Regions from separate parts of the Homo sapiens genome. Here regions 1 and 2 are each linked to region 3. The links come from fine-mapping of genetic effects on plasma protein levels. Region 3 holds a variant in brackets. A gene starts in each other region. All regions are shown on their reverse strands.

Region 1 (8,286 bases), not on the chromosome of region 3:
AAGGTTTCATTTATTTATTTATTTATTTGCCCAATTCTCTTGGCATAGAGTTTATATGAATCAGAATGTAAAGAAGCCTGTAGATCATCTTGTACCACTATTTTGTTTTGTGGAAGAGAATATTTAAGCCAGATGTAAAGTAATTTGTAGGAGTGTAAGTTGTTTTGCGTAGTGTCTTTTGAAATGTAGGTATGTGAAAGCTGGTAGCTATTGTTCTTAGAACTTTGCAATTCAGATTACCAGTCTAGTGTTCTTATCTGCCTTGGATTATTTGTCATTACTGTTGGGTAAAACCATTCTTTAGACCTGTAAATTGCTCAAGACACTAGGCATTTTTTTTATGGTACTTGATGGGTCAATTTATTCATTTAACACATATTTATTAAGTACCTACTAAGTGCCAGGTGCTGGTCTTGGCATTAATTTAAATGTTAACAGAAAGTATTAAGGAGTGAGTATTGTTTCAAATCCATGCAAATGAGCATTTTGTGGCTAGTCGTGTGTGTGTGTGTGTGTGTGTGTGTGTGTGTGTAATAAGTACGTGTGTGTGTGTGAGAGAGAGAGAGAGAGAATGTTTGTTTCCTTCCTGTGTAAAATCTGCCCAGTTTTCTATCTTAACTGTCATTATATGTCAAACATATACTATTAAAATTAGCTTATTTCTGAAGCATGTCTACACTAAGGTTCCTGGATTTTATTTATGATGAAATGCTAATTTCTCTTTATGAAACAAATTCTTTATTTCATAATTTTGAATAGGATGGTACTTTCAAAAACCTGCATCTGATTAGATTTGGGGCATTAAATATTTCAATATGATAATATTTTTTTCTTGGGCCTGCAGCATTTTAATTTTATTGTCACATAGAAAATTTTTTATTAATATTAAGACTTTGCTTTCAGAATGCTTTGAAATAGTACAAGCAACGTTGTGTAAAATAGTACAGGTGGAGCATCCCTAATCCACAGATCCAAAATCTGAAATGTTCCAAAATTCAAAACTTTTTGAGCACCAACATGACACCACAAGTTGAAAATTCCACACATAAGTACTTTACACAAACTTTGTTTCATGCATAAAATTATTTACAATGTTTTATAAAATTACCTTAAGGCTATGTGTATAAGGTGTATATGAAACATAAATGAATTTTGTGTTTAGACAGGTCTCATCCCCAAGATATCTCTCTCTCTCTCTCTCTCACTCTCTCTCACTCTCTCTCTTTCTCTCTCTCTATATATATGACACTCAACGTGCACAAGTAATGCCACACTCAGAAAAACTGCTTCCTTCTTTAAATTGTCTGTCTCCATTGTAAAACTGACAGTCAAATTTTAGTAACTCCTGATCTTTTTTGTTTCTTCTGTTCTTTTTAGACTCCTCATCCAGCATTTTGGTCCTGTTTGCTGGCTCTCTCTTTTAATAGGTCTACCCTAGCTTCTCTTTTCAGTTGTTATTTGACGTTACTAGTCTTGCTGTCAATGCATCTCAGTCCTTGGATTCCAGATTGTTATTCTATATCCATCTGCTCTGTCCTGATTGTCAGTGAAAAGTGTTGCTCTTCGCCTGGTGGGACATCAAAACTCTGACAATCTTTGGCTCTTCATTCAGAGATGGGTGGTGCGTGCAAAAGGGTACAGGTTTCTTGGTTATACATTTAGGATACCTTACAAATTTTCCAAAGACTAACATTAACCTCTGGTTAGGGGTAAACGACAAAGTGGCACAACGAAGAAGAAGGAGAAGGAGAAGAGAATTTCAGTAGTTAGTATTTTCAGTTCTGGACCTGGACCTAAGGAAAAACACTGCCAAGTTAGTATATCAATACACACAAGTATCTCCTGAACTATTTTTTTGTTTGTTTGTTTTTGGAGGGAAAGGGAGCTTGGCAATTGCTTGTAGGTACTGATATTAAAATGTTGCAAATACATGGAGGTTCCTTGGTGCTCGCAAAATAACCATGACATGTAAAACAAGCAAAGAACTACCTAGTTTACTAAAGTCTTAAACCCTAACTCATAGATGTCCTAGTATAAAATAGCACTATGGATGCTAAAACCAATGTCTTAGAGTAGTCAAATACTAAAGATACACTTGTTGATACTATACTAAACTGTATTTTAAACCTTATTTTTAGGTCACGCATAGCACTAATAAAACAGTGAATAAGCACCATAAGAGCATGTCAAAATGTAGGAGGAAGGCCACAACTAAACTTCATAGTAAAACCTACCACCATGTGATTAAACACGACACCAAAAAGTTTTTAGCTAGTTTTCTATTTATATCCCTAGATATCTTTGGGATAGGGCCAAAGAAATGAGTTCATAGAAAGGTATAAAGGCCATTTTAAGTCCTGGTTTTGGGTGTGTCAATGTTTGTTGCAGCAGCAGAAGGAAGGCTGAAACAGAAAGTTGTGTCATAAATGGAACAAATACTGTTTAACAATTTTTTTTTGTCTTAAAAACAGCAAAACCCACCATCTTCCTGGAGTCTGCGTTGTTCTCTTCCAGAATAGATGTTGAGCTTTTAAACAAACCTGCAGTAGAAGCAAGCCCTCTCCAGGAAATCCCAATCTCTTTCCAAACAGGGACAGCAAAGGTTCTCTCTGTTGTGGCTGTTTTTCCCTCTCTTCTGGGAATTGGTTTGCCTTCTGAGAGCATCCCAGGAAGGGGAGGTGCGCCCCAAATTGGCGAGGCTCTGCCAAATACCAAAGGCTCTTCTTTGGAAGAAGACTCCTCCTTTGGACGTGAGGCGCCCCTACCAGAGCGCCCGCGTACAGAAACGGAAACCACTAGCTGCGCTGAAGTGAGTCAAGTGATGAAATCAAGACTACACGGGAAGGAAGCTCACGAAACCTAACTGGTGACAGAAGCTGCTGAACCCTGCCCGAAGAAACCACATGAGCCAGCAGTTGCTGCCCTCCCGAAGTGGTCCTCGGAGGCAGCGCACCCCTTCATTTTGGCGAACCGAGGAGGAAGGGAGGAACCGTGTGGGGGAAATCTAGAACTTCTGGTTCCCCAAGGACCCAGCAGACTGTGTTCTGGCTACAAGGTGATCACTGCCACCAGGTCAGTGCAGGATTCCTCCAATGTAGATGGGCCGGGAGCCACAACTTGCGCGGAGCAGCAGCCTCGCCGACCACTCAGAGAGAAGCCGCGCGACAGCCAGGCTTGGCCCGGACGGCGCCCCCACCCTGCGCGCGCGATCCAAGGTTCTCACCTGGAGCGCTCAGGTAGGGCTGGGGCGGGGCGGGAGGCTGGCGCGCAGGCGCGGAAGTGGGGCCTCGCCCCTGCCGACGTCGCAGGCTGGAGCTCACCTGGGAGACTCCAAGTGGAAGCCGAGCCTCGGTTCTGCCTCTCCAGGCAACGCGGGAGGCCCAGCGGGAAGGCAGGAGGCGGCGGCGGAGGAGGAGCTCTACTGAGCCGCAACTGTGGCGACAGCAACCGGAGTCGCAGCCGCCGCCACCTGCACCTGGCGCCTAGCCCACGTCCAGCGCCTGCCCGGCCGCCGCTTCCCGCCACCCTGCCCTGCCCACCCGCCAGGTAAGCCGGCGGCAGGCGGAGGGAGACGCGGTACCCCTGGGCTGCGTTAGAGCAGGCGGGAGGACGGCCGCAGGGGTTCACGTGTTGGGGACAGGGCTACGGTCCAGGTGGCCGGTTGGAGACGGTCTCGAGAGCAGTGTGTCGGTTGCCCCTGGAGAGATCCCGAAAGGGGCGCCCTGGGCCAAGGGGCAGGTGGCGCCTCGGGGGGGAGCCCGGTCACACCCTCTCGCCCACGGTGCCCCCGCCAGTCCCTATGGGGCGGCCCCTGAGGAGCTGGACGGAGACCAAAGACCTGGTGGCCCCGGACTTGCCCTTGGGAGGGTCGCAGCGTGGGGACCCTGAGAGGGAGGGCCCGGCGGGAGGCGGGCGCGCTTCCACTCCGGCTAGCAGGTTGCCTGTCTCCTCCAGCCTCTCTGCCCGAGAGGACATCCCGCGACAGCGAAAGACATGGCTTTGCCAGGCAACTTTCCTAGCCGGGGACCCCAAACAGTTCTAGGCTGCAAACCGCGGCCGCCGAGCCATTTAAATGGTTTCCGAGTGGTTTGGAAAGGGCTCTGTGGCCGGGACGCGGACACCCCTCTCTCTCTGTTTCGACTCTGCACTTTTCCGGGTGCGCTCTCCAGGCCAGAGTTGGGCCCACTTTCCTGATCAATGGAGAAGAGTTCTTTTCTTCCGTGGCGGGAAGAAATCCAACTGCCACGCACCAACCACTCACCATCTCGTTAGAGGACCTGTTGACTTAAGGACCTGCATATCGCGGCTATGGTTTGCCTGTGGCATATGACTCAAAGGTTCAAAAAAACATTGTTTCAGGATCCTGCCACGTCTAAGCTTGGGTGTGCCAGGCCCAGATTCCTTTCCCTGCCTAATTAGGCTTTTCTGAAGCCTAAGAATTGAGGGTGAAACTGGCGCTTACCTTAGACTTTTATTTCCTTCTCTTTCCAACTCATCAAAGAAACTATTTCTGTTTTAAGAACCCCATCGAGTTACCAATATTTCCGATTCTTGAAAACGTTAACATAACTTGCTATAGAAGTTACACTACATAATGAAGACATTTACAGTCAAATTCTATAGCTAAAAAATATTAAAGTGACAGCATTTTAATTAGAAAATCTCTGCTTGTGGGAAAATCTGTTGCTTCTTTTATTGTATATATTTTTCTTTGCGTTTGTGGCTAAAATCCATGAGGTTAAAGTCACACGCTGCCATTAGATTCTTTTTTTTAATTTAACTTTTAATATCTGAAATCTAGTGCACATGTTAAACTTTCCAAGCAATTTGTACCGAGAATCAATCTTTATATATTGCTTTAACCAACATTTTTACGTAGAAGTTTCTGATAATAATAACAATTCCATTGTTTTGTTCTATCTCCACACATTTTAAAAATATTTTTTAAATTGCACGTTTTACTTAAAATGCCTGATGCAACATGTAGTGGGGTTATTTTTCTTCTTCTTTTTAAGATTAGATGGAAATCTAAAAGCCAACCACAGCATAACATGATGTAATTATTAATTCAATCACCACTTTTCTACATTTCTTAAAAGGATCTCACCTGACCTCTTAATCTTGTCTCCATACAGAGAAACAAATGTGCTAAATACTGTTTAAATATGAGATATAGGAGTTGTTCCCTGAATTTTGAATATTAGTCTTCATTACTTACTAGGCAGATGTTACCAGACTGTCTTTCCTCTTAACCTCTAGTGAGAAATGTAACATGTTTTCATTAGCTAGAGTAACAGTGTAACTTAATCTATCTGTTAAATAGGAAAAATAATACTTTCCTAGATTAAGATAACAAAACCTTAAAAACAATCAGGAGTATCTTCCAGCCCTAGCATTCTCGAGATCCCTTTCTCACTTTGGAGATTCAATACTCAAACCATCCATTTATGAAAAATTGAAGCCAAGAGAGGTATTCTAACTTCATTTCACTCAGAGATGGCATGATCATTCCAGTGGCTTGACTCATGACTCCTGTATCTTACTTTTCACCACCCACATCCTCACTTACCATAAGATGTTTATCTTTTTTCTTTCATATAATTTGTAAGGCCTTTGTAATTACAGAATTGTCCATTGCTCTTTCTTCACTCTGATTTACCCTCATTTCTACTTGTCCAAATATTGCCTGACTTCGTGGAAACTACCCAGTGAAGGCATCATGCTCCTCTCATTGTGGAATAGCATGCATATTGATGATGCCATGTCAGTTGAGACTTTTAGTTCCTTCTTGGTATTTCCAAGCCACAGTTAATTTTTTAAGTCAATGTGGATAACATTATTTAGTCTTCTGATCTTTTTATTATATTGGCTTAAAATATATTTTATGAGGCAGCTACCCAGTGCCTTTCATCCATTTGCAACACTCCAGATTTTTTATTTCAAGCACACTTCCTTAACACTAAGTTTCTTTAAACTTTTTTTTCCTTTTACTGCAATCCTCAATAACTAATTTATTCTCTGCCTCAACTCTGTAAACTCCAATGTGAGTGTATATAAATGAAACAAGTTTTATTAATATAAAACAGTGCTTAACCTTACAACATGTATGTTCTTTATTATTTTATTTTTAAAAACGTTGGTCTAAACAATTAGACTGCTTTATGACCACGAAAGTGCTGGAGCCCTCAATGTGAAAATAGCACTATTCTGTTGAATTTTTGTTCTTTTAAAGGCTGATTTTTCTACCAGCTTTCTTTTTCTCTGTCTCATACATGCGTATACACACACACACACACACACACACAGGCACACACCCACTCACATGAAAGAAAATAAATTATTTCTTAAAAACTTTACTGTAATCCTAATTAAACATGTATTGTAGGGCTTGAGGCTCCAGGACCTTGGTGCTAGATTAAATCTTTCAAATATTAAGAACTACATGAAACCTTGTTCATTATACATATTTTGTGTTAAATGGGTTCTCATCATGCTGTAGTGTATTTGGGAACAGGAAAAACTAGAAATATTTTTTTCTGAGGGGATTTTGATGATAAGAATTCAGTGAAATTTTGAGGGAGAAACCTTCTGTCCAGCTCTATTCTGAACTCTTAAAGTTTTATGACTGAGTTAGAGTTCTGGGTGGAGTCTGAAAATTTATTAGAGAAAACATAGCCAGTTTATTATTTGGTTTATATTCTGTTAATATTTAATGCTTTTCTTTTTTACTATGAAACAAGTATGAGACAAATTGTAGGAATTACACTCCCCCTCTCCACAAAAAGACTACATTGAGAGATTAAAATAGATCCCTCAATGATTTGTAGGAATGTAGTCTTGGAAGCTCTGATTGGATAATTAAGCCTTCCGTAGACACTTTCAATTTTAACCTGCCTTTACATTCTTGGTGGGTGAAATATTTCTCCTAAGGAAAATATTATCATATTTAGGATTTTAGAAATGATCAGTGCCTGAATCATCTTCACATGTATTCAGTTCTTTAGTCCATCAAGTGCAAAAATACATTTGGAATGATAGATACTTTATAGATATAAAATCCTATTGAAAAGGAAGGTGTTTTCAGTTAGCTGTTCAATTATGCATTTAGTTAGTATCAAAATAATTCATACTATGTAATTTGGGTGAAATTTAACACAACTCATGTACACTAAGGGGGAAAACTGAATTCAAATCAATTCCAGCAGTGGCAAGAGACAAAAGTACATTCACTTATTGCAAAGCAAAGACAAGTAGGACTCTGAATTCTAGGTCATTAGAGACTACTGACAATTATATGACACTTCCTTGGGTCATTCTCAGAGTTGGGCTCTTATTTTTGGCACTAAAGAGAGAATATTCCCCCAAGTACACCTTTTCCCTATAATTGTTTCAGTTTCAAACTGTCCAAACTAATTTTCTTTTCTATATGATTGCCTATTGGACATCTTTAACATTTGTTCATCACTGGAGATTATATATGTTCAAACCAGAACCTTCATCTCATCAAAAAACAAATGAACAAACAACCTGCTCACTCTCTGTATTCTATTTATAGATAGTAGTACATTGTACCATTTCTTATCTATAATTCAAAAATCATCCTCTGAAAACAAAGCAAAACAAAATTTAACTCATTTGTTAGCAAAACTTGAACTCAGTTGGAGCAAAGCCTGAGTGAACTGTCAGGAGGCTATTGTGATTGTGTATTCAACTTAGTGGATTATGTCCAGCTGCAGAAATAGTGCTGTTTGATTACATAATACTGCCCAGGCCCTGCTGGGGTACACTTTTACATTGATTATGTAAACCATATCACCTTTCTAACATCCAAAAAAATCAGATTTTTTTTTTTTTTTATGAGACAAGGTCTCACTATGTTGCCCAGGCTGATCTTGAACTCCTGGACTCAAGTGATCCTTCCATGTCAGCCTTCCAAGTAGCTGAGACTACAGGCTGTCAAATCCTGAATTTTGAAATATATTTTGCTGCAGAGATTTGGGAGAGTGAATCATAAATGTGTACTACCATCCAGGTGCCATACCAGAAATCCAGAGGTAATTTTAAACTCTTTTTCTTAGCCTCTACAACTGCTATGGTCTGAATGTTTGTGTTTTTCCAAAATTCATATGTTGAAATCAAATCCAATGTATTGGTATTAGGAGTAGGGTCTTTGGGAGGTCATCAGGTCACGAGGGCCTTGGCCTCGTGTGTTTTTGTAAAAGATAATGTCCTTATAAAAGAGGACTGAGAAAGCTTGTTAGCCTTTTGCCCTTCCTCCATGTGAGG
Region 2 (8,266 bases), not on the chromosome of region 3:
GGGTGTTTGGGGAAACTGATTTCCTGGGTCTGCAGGGCTGGCGGTGGATCGCCTGAGTGGAGCAAGCCACAGGCTCCTGGGCTTCACTATGGCCACGTGCTGCATGATGACGTTTAGGTCAACAAGGGACCCTGCATAGCACAGCTGTCCCCTAAGATGATACTAAAGCTGAGCGGCTCTTATTGCCTAGTGACATCACAATGTGCCTCATTACCTGTTCTATGTTTAGATGTGTTCAGGTGACACATTCTTACCACGTGCCAAATGGCCCACAGTACTCAGGACCCTCACGAGCCGTGCAGGTGTGCGGCCTGGGAGCAGCAGGGCCTGCCAGGCAGCCTAGGTGCAGAGCGGCTGCACCATCTAGGCGTGTGGCGTGTGGCGTGTGGAGTGCACGCTGTGATGTTTGCACCATGACAAAGTCGCCTAATGACGCATTTCTCAGAACACGCCTGGTCGTTACACATGACTGCACTTTGTGTGGCTTTGGGCAGCCTCAGCTGAAACATGGTGATAGGGACACTGACGCGTCAGGCGCGGGGACTGCAGGGAGAGTGGGAACATTAGCTGCGGCCTCCAGTGCATGCCAGGGACAGCAGCAGGGGCTGGCAGAAGGCTGATGGTGGGCGGGTGGGGGGTCTGAACCTGAAACTTCTGCTACCTGATCTCGCTTGACCACGAGATTGGCTTTTATAAACAGTAAACCGTGACTTCAGTTTCAATGCACACTTCTTCACAGAAGAGCCCTGTCCCTTGGCACCCATTGGGGCTCAAGGCCATGTGCCCAGCCTGATAGACACCCAGTGCCCTGCGCTCTCTGCAATAGCAGCCACAGAAGTTGTGGTGTGGTCACCTCTGTGCACACAGGGAGAAGCACCTGGACAGGTCAGTCAGGACAGACTCTCAGGTGAGTGGACTCAGCTGTGAACAACCTGAGTCTGTGAACCCCTGAATTAACAGCACAGCTGGGAAGACATACTCAGAGTTTTACGCTAAAGCATGAGGTTAGTGGTGAGGCTGCAGCCAGACGGTGCGAAGTGCTCCAAGCTGTGTTGGGGATGGGGGAGGCAGCCATCCGGCAGGGTCCCAGACCCTACAGAAAGCTGATGCACCCCAGGTCCCCTCTGTGCTTTTACCTCCCAAGAATCATGAGAAGAAGAGGGGAAGTGACGTAGGAGATGGGATTTCCCTGAGGAGAAACGCACCGAGACAGTCGGGACCGTAGGTTCCTGGAGAGCAGCACACTTTCAGTGTCTTCACACAAAACCACTCGAATAAGTCAGGATATTCGCTCTTCCTGAGGATGGAGGAAAACATTCACTGAATCCCAGCAGACACGGTTCTTTAAAACAAACATGCAGCTGAACGTAACATATGCTCTGGAGTATTGTAAGGTCCAGGAAACAAGAGTCTAGGTGTGGACAGAATCTTCTCCTTAATTTCCTGGTTTTGATCGCTGACTCTGGTGATAAAAAACGGTAATGCAGGGGTAAGGTGGGTGCGAGGCAGGTGGGAGCTCCCTACTGTTCCTGTACCTTTCTAAGTCTGAGGTTATTTCAAATTCTAAGTTGGAAAATAAAAAGTATCTTCTAAGAGGTTTTAAGGCACTCACAGCTGCAGCCACCAGGCCTCCAGGTGCTCCTCCTGCGCCTCTAGCATCTGATTGCATTCGAAGTCGCTGCTCTCGCACAGCCCCTCCAGGATCTCCAGCAGGCGAATCTCGCTGAAACACAGGCCCACACCGGCCCACCGTCAGCGCCTCCAAGGCAGTGAAGAAAAATCCGAACCAATACGCCAACCTGGGTGCAGGGGCCGGGGAGCCAGGACTCCGGGCACAGAGAATAAGGGGACCCCACTGTCAGGGGAAGCCAGGAGCGGTTCCCACAAGTGGGGCTGGTGTTCCAGTTTACATTTTGAAAAGCCACTGTCTGTTGAGGGGGTAGGGACCAGAGCAGAAGCTGGAAGGCCAGAGAGGGGCCAGCCATTAGTCCTCAGGGAGAAGCCGAGGTGACTCGGACGGGTGACTGGTGCCTCGGGGGCTGTTCTGTCTCCCTGTCATTAACACAGGCACCAAAGGCAGGACACGACTTCCCAGGACAGCGCCAGGCCAAGACCCACAGGGGTGCTCCAGGGCACCCACCTGGACTCGTACTTGGACAGCGTCTTTTCCTCCCAAGCCGTGTTCCCGCCGCCAAAGTTCTTCTTTGCGGTGTCCACCATCCCCTGCGAGGAGACAGTGCCCATAGTGCTTGGTACCACCTGACCCGGGTCCAGGGTGGGGGCGAGCCCAGGTCGAGGGTGAGGGGACTCCAGGCCCACGGTGGCGTCGACCCTGGTTCCACGGTGGGGGTGGATCCGGGTCAAGGGTGAGGGGGACTCCAGGACCACGGTGGAGGGACTCTGGATCGACGGTGAGGGGGATCCCGAATCCAGGGTGAGGGGGACCCCGGATCCAGGGTGAGGGCGACCCTGGGCCCAAGGTGGGGCGACCCCGGATGCAGGGTGAGGGGGACCCCGGGCCCAAGGTTGACGACCCCGCCCGGCCCCTTCCCACCTGGTTAAACTTGTCCACCAGCCCCCGGCACCGGTGGCAGGGCGTCGGCTTCTTGGCGGCCTCCGGCGCGGGCGGCAGCAGCAGCAGAAGCGGCAGGAGCCCCAGCGCGGCCCGGCGCGGCAGGCGCATGGCGGGTAGCGCTGCGGGAAGACGCAGCCGGAGCTCCAGGTCCTGCGGCCGTGCTGCTCCGGCCTCCCGGCCGCCCACCCGCTCCCAGCCGCGCCGGCCTGTCCCCCAGGCTACTTGACGGCGCCGGCGAGGCCCCGCCCCACCCGCCAGCCCCGCGCCGCTATTGGTTGATGGGACCCGCCCCGGCCTGATATGGCCCAATCCGAGTTCGCCACGAGAGGTGACCAATGGGAAGGCCCCGGATCAGCGGCCGCCAGGAGTCCGGGGGCGGGGCGTGCAGGTCCGACCCCGCCTCCCGCTCCCCGCCCCTCGCGCGCAGCCCGCGGCGGCCATCTTTACTCAGGGCACAGAGGGTCTCTGCGGCCGTAGCGGCCGGGGCTGCGGTAGCCACTTTAGATTTGGGCAAGGACTTTAGATTCGGGCTCTGTTCTGTTTCCGCCGTCCTGCTTCCTGCCGAGGCTGGCCCAGGCAGCCGCGCTTCGAAGGACGCCGCCGGGAGCTGCGGAGGTCAGTGCGCGCTGCCGCGACCGGGGCCTTCAGGCGGGCGCGCGGCGAGACCAGGGAGGAGGCGGGCGAGGGCGCGACCCGAGCTGGCGCTGGCGCTGGATTCCTGAGGCCTCACCGCGCATGTCCACGCGTCACAGCCCCGTGCTCCTTACCTGGGGCTGCACCCCTCACTTGGGGCCGGGCTCCTCACCTGGGGCTGGACCTGTCACCTGGGGGCCAGACCTCTCACCCGGGGGCCGGACCTCTCATCCGGGGGCCCGACCTCTCACCTGGGGCTGGACCTCTCACCTGGGGCCGGGCTCCTCACCTGGGGCCGGACCTCCCACCTGGGGGATGGGTTTTTCACCTGGGGGCTGGGGATCTGGGGTCCACTTAGGGTCTCTGGGGGCTGGGGATCTGCATTTCTACAGGCGCTTGAGGTGATGAACACTCGCTCATGTTCAGGAACCCCTGGTTTAAATTAGGGGAAATAAAACGTGCAGCGTCTGGATTTCAGAGAACTCCTGCCTGTGGAAGGAAGGAGTGCAGATAACACTGCACATTTAAAAAAAAAAAAAGTAACATCTGATTTGACCAGTTTCTTTTCTGTTTTTTTGAGACGGAGTCTCACTTTGTCGCCCAGGCTGGAGTGCAGTGGCGCGATCTCAGCTCACTGCAAGCTCCGCCTTCCAGGTTCCTGTGATTCTGCTGCCTCAGCCTCCTAAGTTGGGATTACAGGCACCCACCACCAGGTCCGGCTAATTTTTGTATTTTTAGTAGAGACGGGGTTTCACCATGTTGGCCAGGCTGGTCTCGAAGTCCTGACCTCAAGCGATCTGCCTGCCTCAGCCTCCCAAAGTGCTAGGGTTACAGGCGTGAGCCACCATGCTTAGCCTGATTTGATCAATTTCGGTAGAGGCCTTAAAATCTGGATTGATGGGGACAAGAGGGTCTTTGCAGGTCATTCCCTAATCTGAGATGCCATTGTTCTGTAAACCACCATTTTAAAGTGTCATGGCCTGGGCCCGTTTTAACCTGTGGGTGCTCTCGAAGCACCCGTCACTTAGATTAGCCACAGCTGCTGCCCAGCTGCCCAGCAGAGTGGGCTAGTGCAGGACAGTGTCCGTTCACCCTCGCCTGGTGGGGGGTTCGTCGTGGTTTTCGTGCTTGCTGGTGTTGACTTGGTCTTCCCGTGCTCCTGGCAGAGAATCCAGACTCACCCTTGGTCTTCTCATGCCCTCGAAAGTGAGCTGTGCTGGTCATCAGCAGAAGGCACACCTTGTTGGGTCCGAGGAGGTGCTGGGGGCCCGCCAGGAGTGTCAGAGTCAGCACGTAATGTTTTCACCCCACAGCTGAACTCTTCCTTGCTGGGGAACTCCCCTGGGTGGAGAGGTGTGGAGTGGGGTTGTGGGGGACTGCCAAGCAGCACTTGCTGTGTGCACCTCCCACATCTTGGCACGTAGATGCTCCCCGTTCCGTTTTATTTTTTATTTTTGTAGAAATGGGGTCTCATGATGTAGCCCAAGTTGGTCTTGAACTCCGGGCCTCAAGCAGTACCCCCCATGTCAGCTTCCTGAGTAGCTGGGATTATTTTTGTGGAGATGGGGTCTGGCTCTGTAGCCCAGGTTGGTCTTGAACTCCTGAGTAGCTGGAATTACAGGCGTGAGCCAACACATCCGGCTTGCTTCCTATTTCTTTTTTTTTGAGACGGAGTCTGGCTCTGTTGTCCAGGCTGGAGTACAGTGGTGCGATCTTGGCTTGCTGCAACCTCTGCCTCCCGAGTTCAAGCAATTCTCCTCCTCTGCCTTCCAAGTAGTTGGGATTACAGGCGCACACCACCATGCCCAGCTAATTTTTGTATTTTTAGTAGAGATGAGGTTTCACCATGCTGGCTAGGCTGGTCTTGAATTCCTGACCTTGTGATCCACCCACCTCAGCCTCCCAAAGTGCTGGGATTACAGGCATGAGCCACCACGCCCGGCCGTTGGAACATATTTTTATTTAATTTAATTAATTTATTTATTTATTTTTGAGATGGAGTCTTGCTCTGTCGCCCAGGCAGGAGTGCAGTGGCGCGATCTCGGCTCACTGCAAGCTCCACCTCCTGGGTTCACACCATTCTCCTGCCTCAGCCTCCCAAGTAGCTGGGACTACTCGCCACCACTCCAGCTAATTTTTTTGTATTTTTAGTAGAGACGGGGTTTTACCATGTTGGCCAAGCTGGTCTCGATCTCTTGACCTTGTGATCCACCCGCCTCAGCCTCCCAAAGTGCTGGGATTACAGGAATGAGCCACCGCTCCCGGCTGCTGGAATTTTTAATAAGCACGTGAGCTGGTGTGATGAGAACCCCATGTAGGAGTTTTTACCGATTTCTTCTTCGGCAGCCTTGTTGAGTGCCTACTGTGCGGCAGGCTTTGCTGATTCAGCAGTGAGTCCACCAAGCAAGCCCTGCCCGCAGGATGAGTCCAGCAGGGGAGGTGGCAGCGAGGCAGCCTTCAGGCCACAGCGGCTGGCCTCTGTCCTTGGTGCTGAGGCTGCGCTGGTGGGAAAAATCATCCAGCATCAAAAACCCCCCACCGTCAAAAAGCTTGTGTCTTAGCAAGTGGGAGACAGCTGAGTGGGCCCTCCCTCAGTTAGTGATTCCTAACCTAGTCCTTCGACCTTTCTCTTTGTTTGATACCAAGTTTATTTTTTTAAATTTTTTTATTATCTATTTATTTATTTCTGAGACGGAGTCACGCTCTGTGGCCCAGACTGGATTTCAGTGGTGTGATCTCGGCTCACTGCGGCCTCTGCCTCCTGGGCTCAAGCGATTCTCCTGCCTTAGCCTCCCGAGTAGCTGGGATTATAGGCGTGCACTACCATGCCCAGCTAATTTTTGTATTTTTAGTAGAGACAGGGTTTCACCATGTTGGCCAGGATGGTCTTGATCTGCTGACCTCGTGATCCACCCACCTCAGCCTCCCGAAGAGCTGGGATTATGGGAATGAGCCACCGCACCTGGCCCTCAGCCTCCCAAAGAGCTGGGATTACGGGAATGAGCGACCGCGCCCGGCCCCAGGTTTTTATATTTGGCAAAGGAGAGAACTGCATACCATTTCAGTCGTAAAATTATTAAAGCTTTCTTTTTTCTTTCTCTCCACCCCCTGCCCACCATATCAAATAGGGTTCTCCTTCCTTCTAATCTACAGATTTTCCTTTGGTTGCCATCTTTGTATACTTCTTAACTCTCCGTTTGATCAAAAGATAGTTTTGGCTGGGCATGGTGGCCCACGCCTGTAATCCCAATACTTCAGGAGGCCAAGGTAGGAAGATGGCTTGAAGCCAGGAATTCCATACCAGCCTGGGCTACAAAGCAAGACCCTGTCTTTACAAAAAATAAGAAAACTTAGCTGAGTGTGGTGACCCACACCTGTAGCTGCGGCTACTCAGGAGGCTCAGGCAAAAGGATCCCAGGAGTTTGAGGCTGCAGTGAGCCATGATCACTCCACTGCACTCCAGCTTGGGTGACAGAGTAAGACGCTGTCTCTTAAAAAAAATTTTTAAAGTAGTTTTAATAAATGGTAAGCCCTGGGGTTCTCTCTCCCTTTGCTTCTGGCCCTTCTGGTTTGGATTGAATAAAATCAAATCTGTTTTAAAAGAAGCCAGAAACGTGAAGAGTTTGCCCCCTCCCCTCCCTTGGTCTCTCACGTGTAGCAGCTGGACATGTTGCTGGCCTCTCAGGAAGCTCCGTGCCACGGGCCCCTGAGGTTGTCCTGTTAGTGTTTGGGGGACCCATTGCCAGTCTTCCCAGGCTCACATGCAGGCTCATGGCCAGTGTGGTGCCACCTTTGGGAAAGCCGGCCATGGCTTCTCCCAGCCCCCAGGGTGGGGTTCGGCGCAGGCGTCCACAGCCCCATCCCACCATTCCTGGGAGCGGGGGCTTTGCTGGCCACTCGAGCCCTGTGTCCCAGCAGCTGTACTACGTTCAGTTTCTTGCCCTCCCGGGGCCCCTGTCCACCACTCTCCAGCTTGGTGCCTCCCACCCAGCTAACTGGCACCCCTCAGCCTCCCATTCCGTCTTCTTCAGCCGGTTCCCTCGGGGCCAAGCCTGGGTTTTGCTGACTCTCCTGCCAGATTTAGACTGGGGGGCAGGGGCCATTTACCACCCTCCATTGCCCTCGTGGCCCAGGCCTGGTCAGACTCAGGGTTCTGCGACTGAGATCCTTCTGCCTAGAAAAACATTCACAGAGCTGGAAGTGTCAGATCACTGGTTACAGTATGAAAGATTCTCAAGTGTGATTTTTTCTCCAAACTTTCCATCTTGATGCGTTTTCAGATTTGTAGTAGTGCGACTAAGACAGTAGTTCAGAGAATTCTGCTAACCCTTTACCCGGATCTCCCAAACGTGAGCGCAAGCGTGACTTTCGAACCTCAGGAATCTGTTTCCACTTTTCCAGCATGCGTGGAGTGGCAGTGCTAACGGCTGGTGTCTCGCACTGTTGGCCTGTGAAGGTACGTGAAGCTGAAAGCCTGGAATGGCTGGAAAGGGGTCATCAGGCAGGCGGCCCCTGCTGCTGGGGCTGCTGGTGGCCGTAGCCACTGTCCACCTGGTCATCTGTCCCTACACCAAAGTGGAGGAGAGCTTCAACCTGCAGGCCACACATGACCTGCTCTACCACTGGCAAGACCTGGAGCAGGTGAGGGGCCCCTGCTGTCTTTGGGGAAAACCTCATGTTACCAGCTGGCAGGGCCCCGGTGCACTGACCTGCCCTTCTCCTCGCAGTACGACCATCTTGAGTTCCCCGGAGTCGTCCCCAGGACGTTCCTCGGGCCAGTGGTGATCGCAGTGTTCTCCAGCCCCGCGGTTTACGTGCTTTCGCTGTTAGAAATGTCCAAGTTTTACTCTCAGCTAATAGGTAAGGGGGTCTTCAACAAAGGAGGAGGGAGTGAGGGACTGTGGTGTCATCGGGTGACCTCAGCGAGGCCGCGGTCCCTCCTGCCCAGGAACGCTGTCTGTTAGTCTTGCCTGCCCTCGATCACCGTGGCATGGCGGCTCAGAGCAGGTGCTCAGGTCAGGCCTAAGACGTCTGAGTCAGCCCCTCTGTGCCTCCACA
Region 3 (5,998 bases):
TTGTTAATAAACAGCACATTGCTAGCTACAATATTTACATACTTATAAAGGACCAGCTAATTTTAAAAGAATACAAACATTAAAGATGGCAAGGTAAAGCAGAGGAACCTAATGTACTAGACCTGTGGAAGAAATCAATAGTTTACTTAGACATCCTAATGATTTAAAACCAATTGAAATTGGTGAAACCAAGTGAAACTGTGGAAAGTATTTTTAAATGAAACAATATTCTCTCACACTCTTTAGCGGATAAAATTACTGAGATTTCTTCAAATCAAAGGAGCAGCTATACAAGGAGAAATCTCCTTCTCCAACATCTGCTTTCTCTTCCTCATTTTCTCACTGTAATTTTTTGTGTGGCTCATACTCGGAAACATACCTCTAGGGCATTCAATGACTACAAAGCCTTGCCCATTAGGTGTCTACAACCCAATACACTTCATCTATATATGTATCAACCCAAACAGTACAGTATTTGAGACAAAGCTCTCAACCTAGACTTGGGTTTGAACCCAAATTTTGTGGGCTAGTATACGACCTTGAGTAAGTTATTTAATCTCTATAAGCTTTAATTTCCACATTTGTAAAAGGTGGTTATTTAAAGGAGACAATGTGTGTAAATTACCCTTTGCTTAAAATAAATGCCCAATAAATGTTAGCTATTATTGACTGAAAAATCATATCAGGTGGCCCTAAGGTAGGTCAGATTTAAACCTTTGTCCAGTTATGTAATTCTCATAAATTCCTAATAGGGTTGGTATGAGAACAAAGTTTAAAATAAAACAACAACAATACAACGAACAAGAAAGCAAGAAAATTAAGAAGACAGAAAAAGAGATGAATTAAGCAGTCAACCTAGAGTCAGAATTGGTATCTGGAGAATGTTGGTGTCATCCAGGTGACTCCAACAAAACTTCAGGCTCCATCTGACATCTTTGTAAAGAATGAGGGAGATAGTCTGGCAAGTTCCAAGAGAAGATTCATATTGACTGAATATTTAATAAATCTAATAATTTATGTTTGGAAGTATGTAGCTTACAGTGTGTAAAAATTATCAAACTGTCCACTGCGTTTTCTCTGCTGTTATCTCTAAACTTTCCTTTGAAACACACACTGGATATGTAGATTCTTAGACAACCTACTCTTGCACCTTTAGGAAATATCAGAATAAAAGCAAATAGGAAAAATAACCAGATAAGTCAACTTGTGATTATCTAAACTAGCTCTGTCCAACAGATATGTAAGCCATATAGTAGCCACATAAAAAATGTAAAAAAAAAAAAAAAAAAGTGAAATTTCATTTTATTTAACTGAAAAAGTTCATCATACTGTTTTAACATGCAATAGTTTTGCGATGATTAATGAAACCTTTCTTGAAATTAGGTGTGTATTTTATTTACAGCATATCTCAATTTGGACTAGCCACATTTCAAGTGCTCAATAACCACACATACTTAGTGGCTACTATACTGTCCAGTGCATATTAAACTTAAGGACTAGACCAGTAATAGTTATAAATTGCTGACCTCTGGAAGCAATTTTTATATTCTGTAAAATAATATTTTTGATAAGATTTACTGCATTAATTATATTGCTCTTATTTATTTATATTTTACTGGATGGCCAGGATTCTGTTAAGCATTTATGCAATAAAAGACAATAAAAGTAAAAAGCTATAATTATTAGAAAACAAGAGCTAGCAGACAATTATGGTTACCCAAAAAAACTCAAGAATCTCAAGTGAAGAATCATCAGAAATAGAGAATTCAGTTACAAAGCCAGATTTTAAAGATGCTTAAAAAGAAAATCAAACAAATAAGTTTTCATATATATCAGTAAAAAGTTAAGTCTTTAAAAGCCCAAGTAGAACAGTAACAAAAATATTGCATACCTATGGAAATAGTTTATAAAACTTGACCAAAGGACCTAAAAGGTGACTTACAAAAAATCCTGGGCAAAGATGTTATTGTCCCTAAATTAATGAGTTTGTATGCAAAGATAAAGAAATGAGTTGCCAAAACACTTAGAAAAAAAGAAGAGTTAATTTGCCCTTAGAATAGTAACTTAAAACTGCTGTAAAGCTACAAGGTTCAAAACAATATGGTGCTGGGCCAAAATCAAATGAGAACAATGGCATAGAAATGAAATCCCAGATTTAGATCCTACTATAAGTAAGGTTACAGTGTATGATAAGGGGGACATTTTAAATCAGTAATGAGTTAAAAAATGGTAGTAGAATAATTAGTTAACAATTTAAAAAAATCAGGAGCTCTCTACCTCACTTATGTACTAATATGTTTCAGATAGAATAATGTAAATAAAACTGAATAAAGTAGATCATATTTGACCATTTCTGACCTACAGAAAAGTCAATTTTTCATGTAGAGAGATATATATGTAAACAATTACACATATATTTTAAATCTACCATATTAAGACTCACTGCAACTTCTCTGGTGAAAAGTCTATTACTAAGAAGGTGGAGTGGGAAGGGAACTGCTTAAGAGTCAGTTCTGAACAAGAAATTTAGGAATGTAACTCTTTCATGAATTAGAATATCTTTTACCCTGACTTGCTAGATAAAAATTTTCTGTATTTTCAGTAATTAGTATATAGAAAAAAAAAGTATGTATAAGATTTAAACTCATTTAGGGGGAAGAAAACTTACTAAATGATAGATGGATAATAATAGAATTTTAGTTTCACGTTGGGTTTATGTAAGAATCTCCTGAGGGAGAACAGGCAATGTCAGATTGATGGGTCAATTTTGGTACTCTGAATTCTAATTCTGTTTTATGGTCTTCAACATAATTTGATAAATTTCTAGAGAAAGAACAAATTTGCCAATTATGATGTCCCTTTGCTACTACTGTATGTGTATCCAACATCAGATACTCTTAGTAAGATCTTATATGCATTTGGATGTATTTGCTACATGTTTATATTCTTGAATTTGGGTAAATTTTTTATATGGGAAAAGGATACAGAATTAAGGAAAAAAGATCAAGTCATCTTGGAATGGTCAAAATATATTAAGAAAAGTTTACATCAAAAAAGCATCCAAAGTAGTACTCTCACTAAAATAGAAAAACAGACTATCAAAAGTTTCCTTTTAAAGCTGATTACCTAAAGCTTGGGTCAGATGTTCTAGGCCAGGGTCTCTGAACCATGGTACTACTGACATTTTGGGCTAGAGTAATTCTTTGTTGTAGGAGGCTGTCCTGTGCATTTTAGGATGTTTAGCATTTAGTAGGTTTATAATGTAGTGGGTTTCTACCCATTAGATGCCAGTAGCAGCCTCCTAGCTGTAACAACCAAAAATGTCTCCAGACCTTGCCAAATGTCCTCTGGGGGCAAAATTGCCCTGGGTTGAGAATCACTGTTCCAGATGATGATTTGAAAGCATTGCCTTATGAAGATGACAGTAGTAGCATGAAGTGTATTATTTATACGTTAGGTCCACAGAAAAGAAGGCATAGAGAACTAGTGACTTGCCTAAAGGCATTATTAGTAACAGAACTGAGCCTAAAAGCTAGGTTCCATGATTCCTGGTCTCATTCAGTTATTCACTGAAGCAATGCTTATAATAGTGAACACAGCAGACATGTAATTAACATTGATAAATCTCAATGTTGTGTGAAAAGGGCAAGTTGTAGAAAGATATTTATTTAAAAATCTGAAAAACAATACTATAGCATTTTCTTCTTTAAATAACTGAAACAAATGTGGCAAAAAGATTAATATTTGGTAAAGACAGGGGATAAGTACAATGTATATTCTGAAATATTTGTACTACTGGAATACTTCCTAAAATAATGCACTTTAGATAAAATTCTCAGGAATGTGAGCCAAGGCTTATTAAATGCTTACTGTGTGAAGGGCTGTACTATGTTGTAATTACAACAACTAAATAAGACAGGTACATTATGTCCATCTTACAAATGAGGAAACTGAAGCTCAGATGTCATCCAAGGCTCCTGTCCATCCAAGGTTGTTCGGCTATTAAGTGAGAGAGCAGGATTTGACTCTAGGTCTTTCTGAACCTCCATTAAATCCTCCTGATGACTAGAAGGCTCTTTACCCAGATCTTCACCCAACTTGCTCTCTAATAACACTCAGGGTTCTGCTCAAAAGTCACCTCTTTGAGAGGCCTTCTTAATCACCCAAACCAGAGGACTCCATCCCACTCTGGGTCACTCTCCATCCCCTTACTTGGCTTATTTTTCTTCAGGGCACTTACTACTAAAATCCTATTTTATATTTACAAGTCTGCCTGTTTACTGTATATCTCCTCATCCAGAATGTAAGGTTCACGAGAACTGGAAATTGGCTGTGATTTACTTCTACATTCTCAGTGCCTGGCATATAACAGCATCAATAGCTATTTGCTAAGTGACTACTGCTGATTGCTGATGTCCCTGTTCTCATCTATTTTGTTATACTGCCACTCTATTTAAAAAGACTAAGGAAGAGTCCTTGTTGTTGGTACTAAAGAAACATACACATATTAACATGTTTTTATCAACAAAATTCAGTCAGTCCAAGTATTGACATAGTAATAAAATTTCTAAACTTACCTCTACAGGAGGATAATAGTTGTAATTCCAGTACCAAAACGTTCTAGGTAGATAACCTTTAATTAAATGGTGTTCTGGCACAAAGGGATGAAAAGTTTCTTTTCCA[A/T]TGGTATCTCTGGAATCTCCTGCTTCTACATTCATAATTTCCATGCATCTCCCCAGTGCTAAGTCTTCAATGGAGGAACTATGTGTACACTTGTCTGTTTTAAATGCATCAACAAATCTTTTCAAGGCTTCTTTGCTTAGTACATATCCTGCTCCTCCACTCATGTAGCCCTGCTTTACATAAGGCTTAAATCTTCTCCCAAAGTAAATGGGTTCTTCAGGGTCGTATTTTGAAAGAAGCCACCTCAAATTGTCTAGTATGACATACGTGTCATCATCTGCTTTCAAAAACCAATCAGCATCTTCTAAATAATGTTCATGAACATACTGAAAAGCTTTAATTGTTTTCCAGTATAGTTGATCTCTGCCTTCTTTGGTTTTCAGTCCCACAGCAGGGAAGTCTTTATTTTCTTCTGAACTCATAAACAACACTTTGTTACAACGCTGGGCCCAAGTAGCTTTGACGTGTTTGGCCTTTTTCTCTAGGTTTTGAGGGCCGGTCATAACCCAGCAAAGAATTCTAACTTTCTGATAGAGGTTTTCAGCAATGTCTGTGTTCTCATCTATTAAACAAAACATTTTAAAAGGTTATTTACATAGATGTAAAATCCAAATATTAATAAATTATACTGAAGAAAGCACTGTCCTAATTTCAAAGTCCCTATTTATCCCTCTATTAGTGATTTAGCCAAAGGAAAGCAAACTCATCCTAATGTGAACTGACACTCTGATTTATTGGTTTCATGTCAGTGTTATCTAGGACATCACTGGAGCTAGTAAGAGTTGACATTATAATCTAAATTCGTCTCAAACTGTAGTTTACTGATTAAAAGCAGCAGCATCACCTGGGAGCCTGTTAGAAATGCATAATCTTAGGCCCAGACCTACTGACTCAGAATCAGCATTTTAATAAGTTCTCCTGGTGCTTCATAGGCATGCTAAATGCTGCCTTAAATAGTCTCTGCTTGGCACTTCATAAAAGAAAGCAGCCAGTTTTTAATAGATTACTGACAGAAATTTCTCACTGCTCTGAACGAGTTTCTGAAGAGCAGGAAAGACATGCTGCTGAAGTGGCAGTTCATTTTTGAAGTTCACAATAATCCACTATTAAGAATTTCTACAAGTACCCTGAGGTGGTAAAAGGTCAAAGCACAGGAGTTGAGATTACTTTCTGATAGTCACATACCTCATTCCAAAATGTAAATCCACCAATCAAAAACAGAAGAGAACAATGGTAGACATGGGAATTCCAAGATGGTCTAGAGCAGTGCTCTTTAAACTACAGGTTTGCAAAGAAATAAGGAGCTTATACCAGA

Which allele goes with the higher level. Positions count from the first base shown, and alleles are read on the strand shown. Strength reflects both the effect of a copy and how common the allele is.
For the plasma level of the protein whose gene starts at base 3,314 in region 1, A is the low allele of the variant in region 3 and T is the other (weak association).
For the plasma level of the protein whose gene starts at base 2,819 in region 2, allele T in region 3 goes with a higher level than allele A (weak association).

The links. PIP is the posterior inclusion probability: the model's chance that the variant is causal. The UK Biobank Pharma Proteomics Project read protein levels with antibody pairs (Olink). The fine-mapping took linkage between variants from a reference panel, not from the people measured, so its PIPs are less certain.
Region 1: GALNT3 starts here. The variant in region 3 is fine-mapped to the plasma level of the GALNT3 protein (UK Biobank, PIP above 0.99).
Region 2: it holds the start of CRELD2, and the variant in region 3 is fine-mapped to the plasma level of the CRELD2 protein (UK Biobank, PIP above 0.99).

What each region holds. Positions count from the first base shown.
Region 1 is chr2:165,789,275-165,797,560 of GRCh38, reverse strand. It overlaps GALNT3 (polypeptide N-acetylgalactosaminyltransferase 3), which reads left to right and starts at 3,314. Exons shown (of 11, transcript NM_004482.4): 1 at 3,314-3,546. It overlaps LOC124906086, which reads right to left and starts at 3,975. Exons shown (of 6, transcript XM_047446887.1): 1 at 3,769-3,975; 2 at 3,224-3,642; 3 at 2,482-2,761. The coding sequence starts at 3,975. RefSeq lists silencers at 3,372-3,521, 3,592-3,681 and enhancers at 2,752-3,657, 3,658-4,564.
Region 2 is chr22:49,913,187-49,921,452 of GRCh38, reverse strand. It overlaps CRELD2 (CRELD disulfide isomerase 2), which reads right to left and starts at 2,819. Exons shown (of 10, transcript NM_024324.5): 1 at 2,555-2,819; 2 at 2,141-2,223; 3 at 1,613-1,723; 4 at 1,206-1,297. The coding sequence starts at 2,683. ALG12 (ALG12 alpha-1,6-mannosyltransferase) reads left to right here and starts at 3,015. Exons shown (of 10, transcript NM_024105.4): 1 at 3,015-3,190; 2 at 7,610-7,849; 3 at 7,936-8,068. The coding sequence starts at 7,688. RefSeq lists silencers at 2,616-3,115, 3,226-3,425.
Region 3 is chr7:7,237,502-7,243,499 of GRCh38, reverse strand. It overlaps C1GALT1 (core 1 synthase, glycoprotein-N-acetylgalactosamine 3-beta-galactosyltransferase 1), which reads right to left. Exons shown (of 4, transcript NM_020156.5): 3 at 4,578-5,245. Among named protein-coding and RNA genes, the nearest start is that of LINC03016, 15 kb to the left of the region's middle. The variant A/T (reference allele first, on the strand shown) is at 4,684.